Linked DNA regions of Homo sapiens. The protein of the gene in region 1 purifies or fractionates together with the protein of each later gene. This does not show direct contact. Each region holds a gene or a part of one and is shown in the gene's direction. Other genes may lie near its edges.

Evidence for each region. Proteins that work in one complex are often made in the same cells at the same time.
Region 2: the proteins of KRT77 (region 1) and ARMC9 purify together in Homo sapiens (co-immunoprecipitation; one large-scale study listed by IntAct). This does not show direct contact.

The regions. Positions count from the first base shown.
Region 1 is NC_000012.12:52,691,326-52,693,681, reverse strand, and holds part of KRT77 (keratin, type II cytoskeletal 1b), read left to right. Parts: intron 1-801; coding exon 802-927; intron 928-1,040; coding exon 1,041-1,261; intron 1,262-1,709; coding exon 1,710-1,744; intron 1,745-2,242; coding exon 2,243-2,356.
Region 2 is NC_000002.12:231,201,625-231,205,281, forward strand, and holds part of ARMC9 (lisH domain-containing protein ARMC9), read left to right. Parts: intron 1-3,657. UniProt on the Homo sapiens protein: Involved in ciliogenesis. It is required for appropriate acetylation and polyglutamylation of ciliary microtubules, and regulation of cilium length. Acts as a positive regulator of hedgehog (Hh)signaling.

The DNA.
Region 1 (2,356 bases):
TTTCCATAAACTGACCTGGATCTTTTTGGATGGTGAAGCCTCTGGTTGAAAGGGCGTGGCTGACAGTCCAGTCACTAAATTCTGAACAACTAGCATTGATGACTGGCTTTGAGGATGATCTGTGGCCAACTCCAATCCTGGCTGACCTCTGTCCCACGGTCCTGCACAGTGTTCTGGGGTGGAATGGATTTCGACATTAGACTAGGAAGCAGATGGCCAACAGTGAAAAATAGCAGAGTGCAGATTCCCTTGAGTCGATGCTTCTCCTACCCACTTCAGAGCCCTGTCCTGGGGGTGGAGTTCTGACTAATGGGGCAATACAGAGACAGAAACAGAGATGGAGGGGAAATGAGACTGAACGTGGAGCCAATGGAGGGCCTCTGAGGACATGAGGTCCTGCTTGACTGCTAGGGAGATCATCCTGGAAAAGGGTGGGAAGCTATATGGTGGGTGGAAAGAGTGAGGGGGTCTCAGTGTGGGTAAGGACCAACGTGAAGGCTTAGATGTGTGAAAAGGTGGTAGAAAGGGCATCACAAAGCAGGTTTGTCTGGCTGGGATGAGAGTCTGCCCAGAGACTGGTGGGAATGCGGGAGGCTTGGGATAGTGTGAGTGTGTGCATGTATACATGTGTTTGCAGCCTGGGTGAGGGAGGTTTGGTATAGCTGTGAGTATGCATGTAGGGGTGACCACAGTGCAAGGTGGGTGGGAATCTCCCAGGGGAGAGCAGCCCAGACCTACTCCCTCCTGGAGGGGCTTGTGGTGGGCAGCACATGCTGACTATGATGCTGCCTTTGGCCCCAGTACCAGGAGCTCCAGATCACGGCAGGGAGACATGGAGACGACCTGAAGAACAGCAAGATGGAGATTGCAGAGCTCAACCGCACCGTCCAGAGGCTGCAGGCAGAGATCAGCAACGTGAAGAAGCAGGTGGGACGGGTGCTTAGGGAGGGCTGACCAAGCCCTGCACCTCCTACAATGCCCTGCCAGATCGAGCTCTGGAAACTTAACCATTAAATGGTCTCCAACTGTCTCTGGAGCAGATTGAACAGATGCAGTCACTCATTTCGGATGCTGAGGAGAGAGGCGAGCAGGCCCTCCAGGATGCGTGGCAGAAGCTGCAGGACCTGGAGGAGGCCCTGCAGCAGTCCAAGGAGGAGCTGGCCCGGCTGCTGCGTGACTACCAGGCCATGCTGGGGGTCAAGCTGTCCCTGGATGTGGAGATCGCCACCTACCGCCAGCTGCTGGAGGGCGAGGAGAGCAGGTGGGTCTGGCAGCTGTGTTTCTGGGGCTAAGGCTTGAGATGCACCCATGAAGCTGTGGGACTGGCTATTTGGAGAAAAGATAAGCCCCACCTTTTTGGGAAGATTGGTAGCCCAGGGTGAGCAGAAACATTCCAATTAGAGGCAGAGGCTGTGTGAATGGACAAGCCTCTTCACATAGGGAGAAGTCATTGTTATCATTCCTCCACCTCCAAGTAGAATGTCCTTATACCCCAATCCAAGCCTCTGCAGCTGGGTATTCACCCCCAATGCTAAAAGGCTTCATGAAAACCCTGAAATTTCTCTCTGCCCCACTGGCTTCCTGACCTCTGCTCATGCACACACATTTCCCTAAGGCTTGGGGACACCTCTGATCCAGATGTCTGTGGGCCACAGCCTTCTCTCCTCAGGCCCTGTGGGTCTGGCTGACCGTGTGCTTTGGTTTTACAGGATGTCAGGAGAGCTGCAGAGCCATGTGAGCATCTGTAAGTAGCAGAGCCCAGGGGCAGAGAGAGGCTGGTGGTGCTGGGTGGAGGGAGGGCCAGGAGGTGGCCAGCAGAGAACGGAAAGTCTGGCATTTTAGCTTCCAGTCCTGTGCAATAGACACCAAAGTAAGCAAGTGTAATGGCAAAGCCTGGAAGAATTCATTTGAAATAAATGGTTATGATTTCAGGTCTGCTTATCTTAATTGTTATGATGCCTTTTTATTAAATGATGCCTAGGAGGAATCAGCAGCGGCTAGAACTCTTTAGGGTACATATTCAATAAACAATGTAAGTGTGTTGCTGAGAGGAACCCTGGCATCCCTTTGTAGTATGAAGAATACTTTTCAAGTAGGAACACTTTCAATTTTCAATGTATGGGGTTTGCAAGTCGATGCCACGGGTGATCGAGGATGGAGGAGGCTGCAGGTGCAGGGGCGGGTGCAGGTGGGGGCCTTGCCCGGTCCCTCTGACCCCGTGTGCACTGTCCCCTACCCACAGCCGTGCAGAACAGCCAGGTGAGCGTCAACGGCGGCGCGGGAGGCGGCGGCAGCTACGGCTCAGGAGGCTACGGCGGCGGCAGCGGTGGGGGCTATGGCGGCGGAAGAAGCTACC
Region 2 (3,657 bases), on another chromosome or scaffold:
GGTCTCAGACCCCACTGCTTCCTCACTGCTCTGCAGCCGCCTTATGTGTGTTCCCCTCCCCCATTCTTAACCTGATTAGTTCCAGTGTCCCATCGTGGTTGTACTGTTTTCCCTTTCCTCTCTCTTCTAGAAGAACCTCTCACATTGGTTAACCTAACTCAGATAGCTGAAAGTGCCTGGAGAAGAGCTGCAAAACTGTGCAGACTGATTCCATTTTAGATTCAAGTGCAGAGATCTTAAATGGACTATAATACCAGCAACCCTGCCATGTTGCTGTAGTCGCTTTGGTTCCCACCCTCCCTTCCGTTCCCACTCTCCCTTCTCTTCGAACTGTCACCATGCTTCTTACTTGCAGCCGATGACCTTTTTTCTTTCTTTCTTTTTTTTTTTTTTTTGACAGAGTCTCACTCTGTTGCCCAGGATGGAGTGCAATGGCACGATCTCGGCTCATTGCAACCTCCACTTCCTGGGTTCAAGCGATTCTCCTGCCTCAGCTTCCAGAGTAGCTGGGATTACAGGTGCCTGCCACCACACCCGGCTAATTTTTGTATTTTTAGTAGAGATGGGGTTTTACCATGCTGGTCAGGCTGGTCTTGAACTCCCAGCATCAGGCGATCTGCCTGCCTTGGCCTCCCAAAGTGCTGGGATTACAGGCGTGAGCCACCGTGCCCAGCTGATCTTGTTTCTTGTTTCACTTTTTTTTTTTTTTTTTTTTTGAGACAGGGTCTTACTTTGTCACCTAGGCTGGAGTGCCATGGCGTGATCCCGGCTCACTACAGCCTTGACCTTCCTGGTTCAAGTGATCCTCCTGTCTCATCCTCCCCAGTAGCTGGGATTACAGGCACACACCACCACACCCAGCTAATTTTTGTATTTCTGTAGAGATGAGGTTTCACCACGTTGCCCAGGCTGGTCTCGAACTCATGAGCTCAAGTGATCTGCCTGCCTTGGTGTCCCAAAGTGCCAAGATTACAGGTGTGAGCCACTGCACCCAGCCTGTTTCACTTCTAATCACTAAATCTGTGTCTTTGCTCAGCACCCATATTCTCTGCTATCCCTCTGAATGCCGTTCCTGCTTCTCCCTTAAACTCCAGGCTCATATATCTGTAAGAATTAAAGAAAGAGGAGAGAAACACGAAGGGTGACTTGACAGTCAACAGGTTTGTTTCCTGGGTAACGGCCAAACTTCACCCTCTTACAATGGGCCTCAGTATAACAGTGGGCCTTAATAAGGACATTCTGTTCCCTTCAGGTGCACTAAGGGAAGCTAAAAGCAGACTTGGGGGGTATGCCTGCAGCTGCAGAAAGTTGTATAGGAACAGACACACAACTCTCCCTCCCAGATAAGCACAACAGAGAGACACAGAAACAGTTCAAGCCTTTGATAAACTCTCCCACCCTGAATCCTTAAAAACTCTTAGTCTGTAGGAGAGTGTGGCTCTGACCTAACTCGGTCGGAAGTCCCTCCCAGGTTTGAAATAAACCTGTTGACTGTCGAGCCACCCTTCGTGTTTCTCTCCTCTCTCCTCTTTCTTTGGTTCTTACAATACCCACTGACCATTTCGGAACCTCCACTGGAATGTCTAACAGGCAGCTCAGACTTATAGCCAAAACAGAGCTCTTGGTTTGACCTCAAAACAGTCCTTCCCCAGGTTTTCGTTGACTCAGCAAATCACATACTCTTCGGCCAGCTGCTCAGATCCCAGGGTTCTTCCTTCCCTTCTTCCCCTCATGTCCCACAACTAACTGGTCTGCAGATTGTGCCTCTTCTGCCTTTTCCATCTGGACTCACAGCGCTCATGGCCCCTCTTGCTTATCCAAATGATGCTCATGGCTGGCGTGGCCTGAGCAGTACTCATCTCCCTCTTCCCACTCCCCTCCAGTCTTCTCTGTAGAGCAGGCAACATGCATATTAAAAAATGGACATCAGCAGCCGGGCGTGGTGGCTCACCCCTGTAATCCCAGCACTTTGGGAGGCAGAGGAGGGAGGATTGAGCCCAGGAGTTCAAGACCAGCCTGAGCAATGGTGAAATCCTGTCTCTGAAAAAACCAAGGCTGGGCGTGGTGGCTCATGCCTGTAATCCCAGCACTTTGGGAGGCCGAGGCAGGTGGATCACCTGAGGTCAGGAGTTCGAGACCAGCCTGGCCAACGTGGTAAAACCCCGTCTCTACTAAAAATACAAAAATTAGCTAGGCATGGTGGCGGGTGCCTGTAATCCCAGCTACTCGGGAGGCTGAAGCAGGAGAATTGCTGGAACCCCGGAGGTGGAGGTTGCAGTGAGCCAAGATTGTGCCATTCTACTCCAGCCCAAGCAACAACAGCGAGACTCTGTCTCAAAAACAAACAAACAAAAAAAAACCTCACCAAAAACCAAACAAATGAAAAAACCAGAAAACAAAAGACTTGGGGCATAGTGGCACACTCTGTAGGCCCAGCTACTCAGGAGGCTGAGGTGGGAGGACTGCTTGAGTCCAGGAGTTTGAGGCTGCAGTGAGCTATGATCATGTCACTGCACTCTAGCCTGGGCAACAGAGGGAAACTCTGTCTCAGGAAAAAAAAAAAAAAAAAAAAAGGACATCAGTGGTGTCAGTCCCCTCCTCCATACTCTCTCTGAGCCTCCTGTTACTGTCAGCCTAATGTCCAAGCCACTTACCAGCTCTGTAAGGCCCACCTGACCTGGCCCCGGCCCCCCATTGCCTGCTGCTGTCTGCCTCACCCCTAGCTACATCCCAATACCCCAAGACTGCAGAGCTCTTCAGCCTGAGGCCTGTGCACTAACAAAGCCATCTTCCCCAGATCCAGGTGCTCAATCTTTGCTGAAATGTCACATTCCCAGTGAGGCCATCAACCACTCTATCTAAAATAACCCCATACCCGTCTCCTTCAGGTTCTGTCCCTTTCCTTGCGCTGTTTTCTTCATGTCTGGAATCAATTTCCACTCCGTCCATGTTTTTGAGCCTGTACTGTGTGCCAGGCACTGGTCTAGGCACAGGGGAACACCTGTCAGGTGCTGTTGAGAAAAATCAAGCAGTACAAAGGGCTGAGAAGTGATGGGCCGACCTCTTAGAAAGGGTGGTCAGGGCAAGACTCTCTGAGGAGGTGACAGTTAGGCAGAGACCTGAATGAGACGTATCTGAAGGAAGGGCAGTGAGCCAGAGTTCACGAGGGCAGGCGTGTGCTTTGGGTGTTCAGTGGGTGTCCACAGGAACCACACAGTGGCCAGTGTGGCTCAGGTTTACAGAACAAATGGGAGTGTGTCAGAGGCCAAGTTGTCTAGGGCTTTGGGAGTTGAGCCTAAGGAGCCTGGCCTTCATCTGGAGGGCGCTGGAACCACAGGAGGGTCCCAAGCAGGAGGGGAATGCTCACTTGTTAAAAGTGTAGAAATTGGATTGAAGTGGAGAGAAAGGAGGTGGGGAGGCAGTGGCAGAAAAATGTAAGGTTACAGACTCAGAAGAGATCTGACTGAGTGTGGTGGCTCACGCCTATAATCCCAGCATTTTGGGAGGCCAAGGCGGGAGGATTGCATTACCCAGGAGTTTGGCAGCTTAGTAAGACCCTGTCTCCCTGTCTCTACTTAAAAAAAAAAAAAAAAAAATTACCTGGGTATGGTGGCATGCACCTATAGTTCTAGCCACTGGGGAGGCTGAGGAGGGAGG